Linked DNA regions of Homo sapiens: region 1 is linked to region 2. The links come from fine-mapping of genetic effects on gene expression. A gene starts in region 2. The other region holds a variant in brackets. All regions are shown on one strand. Distances are from middle to middle.

Region 1 (8,348 bases), 80 kb before region 2:
AATTCAACAAAAAGTGCAGGATACAAAATCAACACACACACAAATCTGTTGCATTTCTAAATACTAACAATTTATTGTTTCACTAACACTAACAATCCAAAAAGAAAATTAAGAAAACAATTCCATTTACAATAGTGTCAAAGAGAATAAAATTCTTAGGAATAAACTTAACCAAGGAGGCAGAAGACTCATACAGTGAAAAACCATAAAACATTAAGGAGGCCGGGTGCGGTGGCTCACGCCTGTAATCCCAGTGGGAGGCCGAGGTGGGTGGATCATGAGGTCAGGAGATCAAGACCATCATGGCTAACATGGTGAAACCCCATCTCTACTAAAAATACAAAAAAATTAGCTGGGCGTGGTGGCCGGTGCCTGTAGTTCCAGCTACTCAGGAGGCTGAGGCAGGAGAATGGCGTGAACTTGGGAGGTGGAACTTGCAGTGAGCCGAGATCACACCACTTCACTGGAGCCTGGGCGACAGAGCGAGACTCCGTCTCAAAAAAAAAAAAACCAAAAACTAAAACAAAAAAACATCAAGGAAAGAAATTAAAGACACAAATAAATGGAAAGACATCCTCTGTTCATGAACTGGAAGACTTAATACTGTTAAAATGTCCACACTATACAAAGTGATCTATAGGTTCAATGCAATCCTTATCAATATTGAAAATAGGAAAACAACAGAAAAAGTGAACAAAACCAAAAGCTGGTCCTTTGGAAGAAAAAAACCCCAATACAATTGGTAAATCTCTAATTAGGCTAACCGAGATTAAAAAGACGACACAAATTGCCAGTATCCGAAATGAAAGAAGGTTCATCCCTGCATTAAAAGGACATTAAAGGACAATTAAAAGGACAATAAAAGAATACTTTGTACAACTCTATGCCCCCAAGTTTGATAACACAGATAAAACAGACCAACTTCTTAAAAATCACAAACCACCAGAACTCACAAAGGAGAAACAGGTAACCTGAAAAGTCCTATATCTATTATAGAAATTAAATCAATAATTAACCACTTTCTAAAAAAGAAAGCACCAGGCCCAGATAATTTCTCTGGTGAATTCTACCAAATATTTAAGAAACAATACCAAGTTTCCACAATCTCTTCCAAAAATAAAGGCAGAGGGAACATTCCCTAACTTATTACATGAGCCCAACATCACCAAAAGCAGATAAAGACACTATGAGAAAGGAAAACTACAGATCAATGCATCTCATGAACACAGATGCAAAAATCCTCTGCAAAATATTAGCAAATCAAATCAACAAAGTATAAAAAGAAACACACACCATGACAAAGCAGGATTCATTCCAGGTATGCAAAGACAGCTTAACATTTGAAAATCAATCTATGTAATTCAGGCTGAAGAAGAAAATTACATACATGATCATATCAACTGACATAGAAAAAAAAATCTGGAAAAATCCAATACCTATTCATGATAAAAGTTTTCAACAAAGTAGGAAAAGAACATAAAAAACTGAAAGTCAACATCACACTCAATGATAAGAAACTGAAAGCTTTCCTCTGAAGATTGGAAACAAGGTAAGGAAGTTCTCCCTCACCACTCTATTCAACACTGCATTGGAAGTCCCACAGAGTGCAGTGAGACAAGAAAAAGGCATGCAGATGGGAAAGGAAGAATACTGTCTTTATTTGCAGATGAAATGAAAGTGTATGTAAAAACACAGGCAAGGGCCCAGATTTGGCTCTTGAGCCATAGTTTGCCAACTCCTGCTAGAATGCCATGTTTCTATACTCAGTTACAATGTACTTATTACATTATTCATTACATAGCAATCCCTGCTCAACTGTCTGCCCTGAATGAAACAGATAATTTTAAAAAGTAAAGGGTGGTGGTGATAATTAGAAGAATGGCCTTGGTCTAAAAACAGATTTATGAAAGTAAAACTCTATTTTTAAATATTGCCTTAAAAATCCCTATATTTAATGACTCTGTAATACCTGAGTTAGTGATCAGTCTTCACATTAGGAGTTTATTATTCACACCATGCTCAAGACGTTTTATCTATAATCTTTCCCTCAATAAAACAGAATATATGTGGAAAAAAATGGTCTAAAAAACCCTTAAAGTTATTGACACAGGGGCAAGATCCTATCCCAGAGATTATCCAATTCTGTGGTTTTCAAATGATAATCCATAGAACTATACCATTTTTCAAAGTGTCTTGAGGACTATCGCAGGACAGGGAAGAAAGACTAGGGGGCTTTGGCATTTCCCTACTCAGAAAGATCAGATCTATTATTAATTGTCTCATAAAGTGTTTCATGGCCAGACTTTTAAAAATCAATGACTAATCCAACATTTTACTTTTCTATATAGGAAAACTCAGACAAAATTTATAGACACTTGCTGCAACCTTAAAGGCAGAGGTGGTAATAGAATCTTGGTTTCTTGACTACTAGGCATCGTTTCTGTACCATCCAGCTTGCTTAGACAGTTTAAAGTATGGTCTCCCAAAAATTAATGTTCTTACCTGTAAGCAGTTTTTCCTGAAGTTTAATTATAGTCATATATATATATATATATATATATATATATATATATATATATATGTACAAAAAAACTATATTTGAGAAGTCTTAACTTTCAAAAATTAAGTTTCTTTTAAAGATAACTTTATCAGTCACAACAGCTATAGAATTATATAGGAAGTCAGAGATTATTCTCACTTTCAACTAAAAAATGCAAACTATAAAAGGTACCTTTTCAAGTCCAGATTTTGAGATCTTTTCAGTTCCACTATTGGTTTCAAGACAGATTCCTTCATCAACACCATCATCATTGGAGAAATCGTTGCTCATCTGATCACTGTGACAACTACCTTCATTTTCTGCTCCACTGTCAGTGCAACTTTCAGTCTGAGGAGATTTCTTAATAAGACATAATTATCTTAGTTATAAACCATATACAGAGAAAATATGTTCAACAAAACTTTGTACCTATATACTGCTAATATTTTCACACAATTTAACATATTAGTAAAAATATTTTACTTTGAGTACATTTATTTTCTCTTAAAAATTGAGACCTTAAGTAAAATTAAACAAGCAACAGTGTATTTTAAAAGCATTTCTATCATGTCCTTAAAATTCTAATACAACAAATTAGTGATTCAGAATTCTATTAAACCTCATTTATGTTTACTGTTACAACATAATGGTTGAAATTATCATTTCTTTTAGCAAAATCCACAAAATCAGAGAAGCTGAGCTCCAAAATGAGCTTCTGGTGTTCTCAAATCAGGAAAGAATATAATTTCTTTTCTTGAACAAAAAGTCCAACTCGGTTTATCAGTGCGTTAGGTATTACAGATAATTAGAAAGAGAAACAAGACATTGTATTCATCCTTAAGAACTTGATAGTCTTTTTACAGGAAGTAGAAATATAATGGTTACAGCACATTATACTTTTCTACTTTATGGTTTTAAACCACATTCACACAAATTTAATTTGAAGAATTCTCTTTGTTAGAAACCCCCAAACAATCCTTTCCCCCTTTAACGTTTTATATACATCTCTAAAAATGTTTTTATTTAAATAATTTGAGAATTTTCTAAGATGCAGGCTTTTGAAATGTATAAGGCATTGCATAGAAGTTCTTGAGTGAAACCAAGCAATATACAATAAGCACAAACTTTTTGCCAGGAACTCTTGTTGTAGGTACTACATCTAATATACAGTCTTCATCTCTCAAGAAGGTTAGGTTCAAGGATAAATGGAGATGAAATCCAGCTATAGATCTAAGTCCAAAGAGATATAATTCCTGAAACTTCTTCAGCTGAGCCAAAACATTTCTTGTCCCAAGAACTAAACCTAGAATTCTCTAGGAAGTTTCTACTAAGCTTCATATATAAGTTTTCCTTCTTTGGAAAAAATTTTCCTTTATGAGAAATATATTAGGCATATTCAGAAGACCAATCTACTACTGATCTCTATTTGAGTAGAAATCCTACAAAGATTATGTCTCCTCTCAAAGTCTGGCACACTTTGGGTAGATTTCCTAGCTTAAGCGCAACTGTCTGAGACATTATTTTAAATTAAACTTTTCAAAATGTTATTGATCATAGTTACCATTCAATGAACAGCTACTTCATCTA[T/C]GGCATCTGGAAATGAGGCTCAAAAGGTTTTATGAATTATCCAAGGTCAAGAGGCTAGCAAGTAGCAGGACAAGAATTTGAATCCACATCTAGCTATGCCTAAAACATGTGCTCTTCTACACCAAACTGCCTCATAGTACTCAATAGTACTAAATAAAACTTAGTGAATGTTTAAAATTATTTTTGAACTCCTGGGAAAAGGCATTTTTTATAACTATAGTAATCAGTTCCAGTAAAACAAAACAAAACAAAACAAAAAAAAAACGCTTCAGGGTAATTCTGAGAATAAATCACTTTGAAATAATTAGCCTAAGTGATTATAAGTATTCCACATAATAAAATCAGAAGAGTTTCCAAAATAATAGAGTGGAATATTGTAAGTCTTTCATTGAATAAGGATAGAAGAACCAGAGAATTTTGGCAGGCCAAAGTGTGGGAAGAAATTGATAAGCATTACATCATGTGTCACTTCAAATCCCATGCTTAAATTATTTAAATAAAGTTTCAAATTAAAAAAACTAAAAAAGGAAAACAGACAAATAGTAAATACAAAATAGTAGGTAAGTACAAGAAATTAAGCCCATGCTATTCAGTTGGTTCATTCATTCCATCATAGGCATTGTCTGCATTTATTATAGATCAGAAACATGAGTATGGCTTACCTTCAGGCTGGTTTCAATAACGACGAAATTATAAAATATAAGATTATCACTCAACTTCAAGAAATAATTCCAAAGCTGAGTTCCTTATTGTCTTTTCAAAGAGTATCATAAGTTACTCTGATCAAACAAGAATATTTAAAATATAATTTATGCAGTCAGGAAAAGCTTATACAAAGGTAAATCATTTTATTGAATTCCACATTAGAAAATAAGAAAGAAAAAGTTTCCATCAAGAAGACAGTCCAAATGACATCAGTGTTATTACCTCAAACAGCTCTTTCAAAACCATGACTGACTAATGTGGATTAATGAAAAATACTTTAAAATAACAAATATTTACCTCATCTTCAACATCAATAAAAGTACTCATATCTAGTTCCTCGGGAAATGTCATTCGATCATTCAGTTTAATCCTATGCATGGTTGTATAATCAAAATCGAATCTTTTCAGCTGTAAGGTCAGCAGATAAGGAAAATGCAAAAACCGAAGGCCCTAAAAAACAAACAACAAAAAGGGGGAGAGTCTATTGAATATGGAATATTATCTCAGATTCCTAAGTATTAATCTCTACATGGCATTTACCTTCCGTGCATCACACTTCTTCTTACAACGTTCACAAAAATACTGATTTGGGCCATCCAGAATCTCTGGCTGAATAAATGCATGCAATGCTTCTTCCTAGTTAGAAAAAAATTTGTTTTATAATTACTTAAAATATTATATTAATGACAAAATCCTGAATAAAAAAGACTGTAATTACTAAAAGTTATAAGTAGAATGGTTAGAAATTTAGGAACTCAAAATGTACCAAGGAAAATTATCAACAGTAAAATAATATTATCACTATAAAAATTAAGCAAAAAAAATTATTTCATTCTACACAAGATTTGCCTTTCTTAGTATTGCAGTATCACAGTCATTTCAACCTGATTTTCATTGACTTTACATTGCAGTGTTTGGCTAAATAATCTCTAAAAATATCCTCAGTCCTTAGATAAAAAGTAATTCCACACTTCTAAGAAAAGCAGTTGCATGCATCAATCTTCTTATAAAAGGAAGCATTTAAAACTGTACAGTAAATATCAATGTTCTCTAAAGAATTCACACTTTTCATACACTTAAAAATCATGTAAGCATCCTTAATCGCCATAGTTAGGATCAGTCAGTAATCTGCCACTGCACTAGTTATAAAGATTGAAAAACACTGTGCAACCTTCTGTGTGTGTGTGAGATACTGTTCCATTTGGAAATGTATAATGAGGATCCTGGATTGTTAATTTGGTAGAACCACGTGGTTCTCTTTTCTCCATACAGCATTACAACAGAAGTAAGAAACTTCATATAAATACTGTTAAAGAATCAGTGGCATAAAGTTAATTTTTATTTTAGTAATTGGTTTTTCACGATTAAAAAATTAGTTAATATAGCATATAAGATTGGACGCATAATCTCAAATTTCATCTGATGTTCTCTCTTTTCTTCACACATGGGCTAAGCAGAACTACTGATAATATTACACATAAACTAAAAGAAATGGAATCATTAAGACAGTATCTTCAAATATTTTTCTTTTGATATAGGACAAGCTGTTCCTCAAAAGATAAAGGAGCTTAATGGTCGTAGTTGCAAAATATCTGGCAAAGCTTAGAAAACTACTGTCCACATATTGTTTGATAGAGCTCACTTTGGAACAAGATAAAAATAAGAAAAGACATAGATATTCAAAGGTGTCTAAACCCATCTGATCCCCTATTTTGTTCTCAGAACACAAGGAAACAAGTGAAGAAACCAAACGGCTGGGTTTTTTTCCACATGACCATGCATTTTATTGGTGGTCAAATGACACATTTAGAAAAAAATTTTTTTTCCCTCTCAGGCATATTTTTGGGGGAAAAAGGAAAGTTCTATAAAAAACAACAGAAAAACAAGCTTTAAAGAAATTACATCTATAGCTTAACACAGACTGATACTAAATGTCAGGCTTTCCAAATAGTGGTAATTTAAACTGGTAAAAACTCAATATTCAAAAAAGGATGGGGGGAGAGGGAGAGTGAGATAATTATGTAACTCAAATTCTACTTTGGTGTGTGTGTATTGGTCTCCGGCTTATAGTTAATACCTAGAGATCTTTAAAAAAAATTAAAACTTGGAGAAAAGTTTAAAGAACAGAGAACTCTCAAATACTTTACTCATATTCATCAACTTTTAAACATTTTTGCCAATTTTGCTTTCCCTCGCCCAACCCAACATTATTATGTATCTTTGTTTTAGCCATTTGAGAGTAGGTTCACACCTCATCATGCTTTGCCTCTTAACTTCAATATGACTTTTTAAGAATAAAGATATTCTTACACAAACAGTAATCAAACTCTGGAAAATTTAATACTGATAAAGTACTTTCATCAGCCATATTCCAATTCTGTCAATTACCTTAACAATGTATTTCTCTCCATCTAGTACACAATCTGTCTCAAGGCCACAGATTTTGTTTGGTCTCTTGAGATTCCTTTAATCTCGAGGCATTCCAGAGTTTGCCTTTCTTTCATAACACTGATATTTTTTGAAGAACAGAGGCCACTTATTTTATAAAATGTTCTGCAATTTGGGTTTGTCTGATGTTCTTCATTATTAGATTTATACATTCCTTGCTAGGCTACTATGACATTAGCAAAGATGTGCCCTTCTAAGGGTAGCATAGTCACAGGCCATGATGTACCTAACTTTCTCTTTGGTGATATTAGCTTTAATTATCTGGTCAAGGTATTGTCCAGTCTCTCTACCATATAGTTATTATTTTTACTCTCGCGGCTAATAAGCAATCTGTAAGGAGATACTTGGAGACCATGCAAAAATCCTGAGCCTTACCAAATCTTCCACCCTTGATTTTAACATCCACTTACAGATTCCTGCCTAAATCAAATTTTAATGTTTGCTTTCTGAACCAACTTGAAAATCTTTTTAATAGGCAATTTAAGCCCACTCATATTTGATATGACTGGTATGCTTGGTCCTATCTCAGTCACTACTGTGTAATTACTGTGTGTGTTAGGTAATATTTATTGTGTTCCTTTGTTATTTTTTACATTTTCTTTTGGTATTTAGCAAGGTTTGTAATTTTATTCTACAGTTACTTTTGCATTTATAGTTTTGTTAGTGTCCTTGGACCTCTTTTTTTCCCACCCACCCCCACCCTGTTTACTCTTTCTTAAGCTTTCAGTGTCTGCCAGTTTTAAATGGTCTCCTTTATTCCCCACCCACACAACAGTCTGTGATCTTATTCTGCTCTCCCTTTCTCTCCCCCTTCTAAAAAGTGGTATTATTTGTACTTTGTCTAACATGTAACATTACATACTACTCTGCTGTTCCCGTGTTCCCACCCTTGTATTTAGGCCTTAATTTAATATAGTAAGTGCTCACAGTTCTTTTGCCGAAGCTGCCCGTGATCTCTTGGTTGGGTTAAGCTCATCCTCTAATGAACTCCTCAATGGCTCATGGATATAATACCCAATGAGTTCCTGAATATTCAAACTTGTCTTTTTATAGCTGTCATAATTAAGAA
Region 2 (8,348 bases):
ATATAAAGGTCTTCTAAGAGGGAGAAATCTCTAAGGTTAAAATGGTCAGAAAAGGCTATTTAGCATAAATGAGATATGAGGTACTTATGGAAAAATGTGTATGAAGGTTTTGAACAGGAAGGAGGGGGCAGCACAAACAGAAGTGAAATGCAAGTTAGAGAGAAACCTGTTTGACTACATTAAAAACCTGTTTCATGGGAGAAGAGATAAGCTGGAAGGACAGGTTGTGGCCAGAATCAATGGTACTGGGCCTTGAATACCAAGCTAAGTAATTTCAAATTTATCCTGCATAGAGTCTCTGTAGCAACTACTCATCTCTGCTGTTGTAGCCATACAAAATACTAAATAAATGGCATAGCTGTTTCAAGACTAAAATTTGAATTACACATTATTTTCATGTGTCACAGACTATTATAATTCTTTTGACTTTTTTTCTTCAACAATTCGAAAATGTAAAACTCATTCTTAACTCACAGGCCATACAAAACCAGGCTGTGAACTGATCTGGACCACAGGCCGTGGTTTGCCAATGCCTGTACTACACTAAGCTGTCTTCTTCAAGAGTCCTCTAAAGGTACATTTGTCCTTGAGTTTCAGGGACCAAAATATATTATTCACTGAACAACTATACACTCCAACACACGCACGCACACATGCCCACATCTAACCAAGATCTAAATCTAGCAGGGGTCAGAGGTTCCCTATACAAAGGCCCTCAAAAAAAAAAAATCTTTAGATTATTGATAATAAGCCATTAAAATAAATGCATGAAATTTTTTAATTTGCCATTTATTTTCACATATATATGTACTTAGAGAGTTACAAACTATTCTTACAGAGCCTCTAAATTACATGTAGGGCTCTGTAAAATAGGGTATAATCAAGGGAATAGTAGCAAAGGAAGTGAGTTCTAGCACTAGGTCTGCCATTTACTCATTATTTGACCCTGAACAAGTCACTTTCAATCTTCTGGGCCTAACTCCCTTAACTGTAAAGTGGAGGGGTAACTTAGATGATGATTATGCTTTCTCTTAGCTCTAGCACTGTATGATTCTACTACTGTTTAAAAGGACCTGTCCCGGAGCTTCAAGGATCACACAAAAGTGCCAATTAAGAATACAAAAAAGAAGAGAAAGGCCTTGACTAAATGAGTGGGCAGATAGGACAAACAGGTGGGAAAATGACCAGAAAAGTGGAGTATCACTAAAATCAAGAAATTGTTTTTTTAAAAAAACTATCAGATCCTGCAGAGAATTCGAACAGCAGAAGAGGCAAGAAAAAAAAAGTCAAAGAATTTGGTCATTTAAGAGATAACTGGTGATTTTCAGAAAAAGTTTCCAGTAATCCAGAAGCAAATATGGAACTGGAGGCAATCACTTTAATAAAGAATGAGTGTGGCCATCAAAGAAGAAAAAGCTAGTTGGCTAGCTATAAAAGGTAAGAACCACAGATCATGCTTCCAGGAATCATGAAAGGAACCAGGGAAAAAGAAGACTGAAGATGAGACTAAGGAATAGACAATAAAGGCATATGGTCCATAAAAAGAAGAAAGGGAAAAAACATAAGTTGTGATGAATTTAAAGCCTCAGGGAAGGGAATTAATCTTAAAAGGACAGGCATTTAATCTTTAAACTTCCGTTGCTGTTATCACTTTTTACACAACAGATGTTTCTGCAAAGCTCGGTATCTATTATCATATCATGTTTTCTATAAATCAAGTTATTAGGGAAATAAATCTAATGTTGGGTTTTCTTAAAGCAGAGTTCCACCTATATGATATTTTTCTAATGGTCAAAAAATTAAGAAAGAATTTTGTTTTTTATAAAAATGAAAACCAGCAATATGAAGCTCTAAAATGAAATACACATTTATACCTTTCTTACAGCACCTATCACTTCCTTCCTTGCATAAGAATTACTTACGTGGTAAAGTACCTAGTCCCTAATTGGAGTTCAACAAACACTAGTGTTCCCTTTCTTAGTAGCTCAGAAAGTTCCCAAGGCAAGAATTCTGATTAACTCATCTGTTTATCTGCTTTGCACAGAGTTGGTGACGCTTGATGAACAAATACTGACACATAACTCTCTGCCTTTTACAAAAATCGTCCTTGCAAAACAACTATCACTGCCCTTCTGACAAAGCTGGGAAAATACTTGTATCATACAGGTACATAACTCCAATAATATCACCCTTGCATACTGTCAGAGCTTGCTTAAGTAACAAAGAATTGCTACAAAACAAGTAAAACAGGCACAAAAAAATTTAAGAATCTGTAATGATCACTCATTAATTTCAAGATCGCACACAGTTAATTTCAATCCAACACTTGTCTCTATTTAAGGTATATGAGAAATAAAAATCCAAAGCATTAGCCTGATGATCAGCCAGTTAAAAATACACATTTGAATACGCCGAAGATATTTATAAAGCCAACAGAGATACTATTAATACGTTGAAATTCGCTGGCCAGTGCTGGATTCTACCCTAAATCTTCTACTACTATTCAAGAGAAGCCAAGTAGTCAAGGCTTCTCGTATCACTTGCTTTTAAGAATTTAAGAAGTCACTCAAATTGGCATACACAACCCAACCTCAAAAAAAAAAAAAAAAAAAAAGAGTTCAGCTCTCCATGTGGTAATGTTCTCCTATCTCCTTCCTTTACATTAATGTCCCATGTACTACTTTTCCACGATCTTCGGTAGGCCCCATTTAGGCAGGCCAATAGTACTACCAAGTAACAGGAGTTGAAAAAAGTCGTAACAGTTAAGTCTGCCCTCCCACAGATCTCACTTGGGTGTAGATTTCACAAGCGCTGAAAGCTATACGCTGCCACTGTCAAACCCAGAAGCAGCACCGTCACCCTGCCGTGCCCATAGGCAACTGTTCCAGAATGTTTTCTTTGAAATGATCTCTCCCGGCTCCACACGTTAAACAAGAACTTAAAAGGCCACCTTCTCCCCTAGAGCAGAACCTGATTCTTTCCCGTCCGCTCCTTTATTCGTCCAGCCCCATAAAACCCGAGGCGGGAGGTCCGCTCCCCGGCCCCTAGAGCCAGCGGGTCTCCCAACTGCTCGCCGCACCCACCGTCCACCCCCGACTGCCTCACGCCTCCTCATTCCCCCACAGCCGAGCCTGCACCCCGGCCGGGCCCGCAGCCGAACCCCGGCCCGGGCCTGTGTTGCCTCGAGCGGCCGCAGGCCTAAGGCCTAACCTCCTCTGGGGCCCCTCACCTCTTTCGGGACCAGTTGGTTCTCCTCGCCGGGCACCATCGCTGACTCCGGCCGCTCCTCTCCGCCCTGCCGGGGGAGGGTGGAGGGTGGCGGCGGCTCGCTAGCTCAAGAGAGAATGGCAGCGGCAGTCATCCTCTCCGCCGCCTGCGCTCCAGCAATAGCGGAGGCCTCAGCCTGGGCCTCAGACACCAGCGCGCAGACACCGACCCAGGGCTCCGCCGCCGCCGCCGCCGCTACCACAGCCGCCTTCGTCGTCGGCCCCTCCCCCAGCCCGCTGCAATCAATGGAAAAATGGCGGCGGCCGCTCTCGCGAGAATTCGGCCCGTCGGGCTCCAAGCCCGGCGCCTGGCGTCGGAGGTGGCCGGCACTTGTCGCTAGCTTCTAGTCACCTCGGCTCTTCCTCAGCCCCGGGAGGTACAGAATTGGCGAGACAGCCATGCAAACGCTTTTCGTTAGAGGAGAGCTGGACGTTCCATCTCGGGACTCCCTCTGCCGGCCGGGGAAGGACCAGGCCCACTGTCCTCCCTGCCTTCTCGGGCTCTTCGGACTCTCTGCCCTGCAGGGAAAGACTCGAGCCGAAAGCCCCATCTCTGACCCTAGCAACTCATACCCTTCTGGCTTCCCTTTAGCAAAGCGCCTGGACGTCATCCCCTCTTCAGATACCCCAGGCCTCGTCCTGGTAGAGACACCACCGCGGGCCACCTCCCGGCCCCCGCCCTTAGACACGGCTCTGGCCCTTCCAGTCAGAATGGACAGCGTTTTATTTGCTCCCGTTCACTCTCCTGACGTTCTTTTCCCCTCTCCCCACCCTCCCTCTCAAGGGCCCCCAGCTGGAGGGACCTCAGGGGCCACCCCCTGCTTGGGGAGGCAGCCACCCCTTCCCTTATGAAGCGGTGTCCTCACCGCCCGCCCCCCGCAACTACATTGGAGAGGCGCTCCCCTGCCCTCTTCCAGGGAACTTCCTTCTCCATCAGGGCCAAGTCTGAGACTGAGCTAGCCTTCCAAGAGTAGAGCTGCAGTATGCTTCAACCTGTGATCTCCGTTAACAAGGTTTTTAGAGAATTTTAATCTTCTCTAGTAGTAAGCATGGTGCTTTGTGTTATACTAAACAAAGTTTGCAGAAGTCATTTCTCCAAATCCTGCTTCCATTATGGAGACTCGGCGGGGCTCCTTCATGAAGACTTTTATGGATACAGTGATCTTACAGCATGCTGAGATAATATAATCTTGTCATGTTCCTAACACCCACAGCATTAACTGCCTGCACTTGTGTTCTCCAAACTTTTTTTTATTGTAATCCCGTTACCAAAAAAAAATCCATATACTTATATAAGTTTTATACGTGTCCTGCTGTGTGCAGAATTATAAAACATTTGTAAAATGTAAAAAGGCTAAGACAAAGATGACATAAACATTTAAAATAACTTAGTTATTTTCCATATTAATGGTATAAAAATCTTTGTTATTCTCACTAAAAATATTTAAGGAAATCAATATGATTGACTAGGTTTCGTTAGTTTTAAAAATCTTTAATACTTCGTGAAATAGTTATTAAAATATCTGATTGAACGTCAGGTTATTTTTGTACTTGGTTTTAATGGCTGTCATAAGCTGAAAAAAAGGTAACTCACAAAGATGTAGATCCTAAAGGAGGAAGTACATCTTTGGCCACTCTTCCTAATGCATGTTTAGAACGATTTAAAAAAAAAAACTGATATGAAAAAAGTTTCATTTTTATCCATTCCATCCAACAACCATGCAAAGGTTTTTATTGAAATTCAGCTAGTAGTGTTCCATCTTTCCTGATGTCAACCAGAAGATGTTGCATTTTTATATTTTTACAAATGGGTTCAAAGCTCTTTGGAATAAATTGCTTAGAAGATTTTTAAGAAGTTGAAAATTTCTATCTTCAAGTTTTAAGTATTCATGTATGAGTTTTGGGAGTTATAGATCTTGTCTTTAAGGTTTTGATATTTTGATTATCATGGATTGATTAAGATAAATTTTGACTTTTTAAAATATTGTATTAAGATTAGTTGTCTTGATTATTGAATTTTTGGCACCCCCCCCTTAAATTTTGTGCCCAAGGTGAACGGTTTTCACCTTGAAAACCATTTGCTTCACCATAGTCCCAGACTTGGGTGGCTCACATATATCATTTTTGCATCAAAATCACATGATGGAAATATTTCCAAACTTTTATTTTCAAAATGTCATCCCATGACTTAGTAAGGTGTCTTCTGTAGTGCTGGCCAGTGCTGTAGTGCTCACCCTAGAAGTAAAAATGTCATCTCTGTCATCTTTTTTGCTTATGCTTGCAATATTATTTCAAACTCATGTTGTCTTTCCAGAAATCCTTTTTAGTCACTTTCATTTTAGTAAAGGTTGATATAATGAAATAAGAATGTAATTGATAAATCTACTTAACCCAGCCCACATAAACTGGAATAAGTGACAACATACTAAAAGAAAATGAAGGAATCTCTGAATTCTCTACATTGCAGAACTCACACTTCTCACTCAGGAGTAGTGAGATGCTGGTGTTTATATATTCAATATAAGTAAGATTTAATTTTGCGTTTTTAGATTAAAATAAATATAAAAAGAAAGTCTAACATTTTCTTCCTACAATCCCCCTTTTCTGATTGCACACTCTTTTCTTTATAGGCCACTGGCTTGACTATTGCAGGAGAGCCTGATAAGATGGTAAGTATACAATGAATATTTGTGGAATAAGTATGTGGATTCATGAATTGATTAATGAATAAATGGACAAATACAAATATATGGCTACTCTTCCTAATATATTATTACTGAGATTACATGGATATGTGTTTATTTACTTTATATGTAAATGTTACGTCCCTTGTCCTCACCTCTCCTATAGGCTGTAAACTCATATATCTACCTTTTTAATGGCTCAATACCTCCCAAATTTAAACTTGACCTGAACAGAACATTTGATTTCCAAGCCTCCCCTACCTCCTGCAACATATCCTCTATCAGTTCTTCTCCACCTTGATAAATTACACTGTCATCAATTCAGTTTATCAAACCAAAAACCTGACACTCTTCATCTTACATTCAATCCCTTCATATGGGCTGTTGCTTCCACCTCTGAAACACATCTCAAATCCATCCACTTTTCCTTCTATCTACTACTGCACATCCCACTCCAATTACTTTATTCTTTTGCCTGTACTACTGCAGTTACCTCCTAACTGGGTTCCTGTTTCTAATCTTATCCCTCAACAATCCATATTCCATAGAGCAACCAGAGTGATCTTTCAAAAATATGTCATATCCCTTCCAAATCTTCCAAAGACATCTCATCCCTCTTAGAATAAAATTCATATTCTTTGCTATAGCCTGTGAGATCCAATGTAATCAAACCCATCTGTCTTGCTCCAGTCATCTGCCACTCTTCCTCTTACGCCCAATGACCCAGCCACTTTGCCTTTATTGAGCTTTTTAAACACATAAAGTTTGTCTCTGCCCCAAAGCCTTTGTAGTAGTTATTTCCTTTCCCTGAAATATTCTTCCCGTAGATCTTTTCTCTTATCTAGTTCAATCTTGTCATTTGGGCTTCTCAAATGTTAAATCTTCGAAAAGGCCTTTTATGATAATCCAATCTAAACTGGTTGTCCATAATGCATCCTCAATGTCTAGAACAATGCCTAGCACATAGTAGGTCATTAATAAATTGGTGTTGAATTAAAAACAAAAACCAAATGCCAAGACTGGTGTAGGTCAGAGGCTGATGATTTTTCTTATAATTTCTTTGGGAATATTTTCCTTTTCCTTTTCAAATGAAAATGTTCATAGTATAACCCCAGTCAAAGTATGAAAAAAAATCACACAAACCCAGTTTGGAGGACATTCTACAGGATGCCTGGTCAGTATTCCTCAAGACTGTTAAGGTCATGAAAAACAATGAAAAACTGAGACACTGTCATAGACCAGAGGAAACTGAGGAAATATGACAAGTAAATGCAATGTGGCACTCTGAATTGGATCCTGAAACAGGAAGAAGCCGTTAACAAAAAAAAATGGTAAAACTCAAATAAAATGTGTATTTGGTTAATATTTATGTACTAATATTCATTTCTTAGTTTTTAAAATGTTTTTAAAAAATTTAATACACTTTATTATTATTATTATTATTATTATTGAGATGGAGTTTTGCTCTTGTTGCCCAGGCTGGAGTGCAGTGGTGTGATCTTGGCTCACTGCAACCTCTGCCTCCTGGGTTGAAGCGATTCTCCTGCCTCAGCCTCCTGAGTAGCTGGGATTACGGGTGCATACCACCACGCCCAGCAGATTTTTGTTTTTAGTAAAGACAGGGTTTCACCATGTTGGCCAGGCTGGTCTCGAACTCCTGACCTCAGGTGATCCACCCGCTCGACCTCCCAAAGTGCTGGGATTACAGGCATAAGCCACCGTGCCCAGCCTTTGTTTTTATTATTCACAGCAAAGACTATATTTAAATAGTAAATGAGAAGAAATTGTAATTAAACTTTATTTTTTAGAGCAATTTTAGGTTTACAGCAAAATTGAGCTGAAAGCACAGAGAGTTCTCATACACCCACTGTCCCTACACACACACCCTCTCCACTATTGACAGCTGCCACCACAGTGGTACATTTGTTACAACTGATGAACCTACATTGATATATCATTATCATCCAAAGTCCATAGTTTACATTAGGGTTCGTTCTTGGTGTTGTACATTCCATGTGTTTTGATAAATATATAATGATATATATCCACCATTGCAGTATAATACAGAATAGTTTCACCGCCCTCAAAATCTGCTGTGTTCTGCCTATTAATCCCTCTGTCTCTCCTAACTCCTGGCATTCACTGATCTTTTTACTGTCTTCATAGGTTTACCTTTTCCAGAGTGTTGGAATCATGGTATGTGGGCTTTTCAAATTGGCTATTTCTTCTAGTAATATGCATTTAAGTTTCCTCCATGTTTTTTCATGGCTTGATAGTTCATTTCCTTTTAGCACTGAATAATATTCGATCATCTGGATGTACCACAGTTCATTTATCCATTCACCTACTGAAAGACATCTTAGTTGCTTCCAAGTTTTGGCAATTACCAATAAAGTAA

What was found. PIP is the estimated chance that this variant, and not a neighbour inherited with it, causes the effect.
Region 1: its variant is fine-mapped to the expression of USP47 in blood mononuclear cells (TOPMed, PIP above 0.99). The same link has a PIP of 0.9 or more in whole blood.

The regions. Positions count from the first base shown.
Region 1 is chr11:11,917,275-11,925,622 of GRCh38, reverse strand. USP47 (ubiquitin specific peptidase 47) reads right to left here. Exons shown (of 28, transcript NM_001282659.2): 9 at 5,372-5,467; 10 at 5,129-5,281; 11 at 2,732-2,899. Among named protein-coding and RNA genes, the nearest start is that of USP47, 79 kb to the right of the region's middle. The variant T/C (reference allele first, on the strand shown) is at 4,127.
Region 2 is chr11:11,837,106-11,845,453 of GRCh38, reverse strand. It overlaps USP47 (ubiquitin specific peptidase 47), which reads right to left and starts at 3,482. Exons shown (of 28, transcript NM_001282659.2): 1 at 3,230-3,482. The coding sequence starts at 3,268. It overlaps LOC107984311 (a long non-coding RNA gene), which reads left to right and starts at 3,613. Exons shown (of 4, transcript XR_001748134.3): 1 at 3,613-4,279; 2 at 5,897-5,935. RefSeq lists enhancers at 3,239-3,378, 2,677-3,540, 3,589-3,758, 3,541-4,406.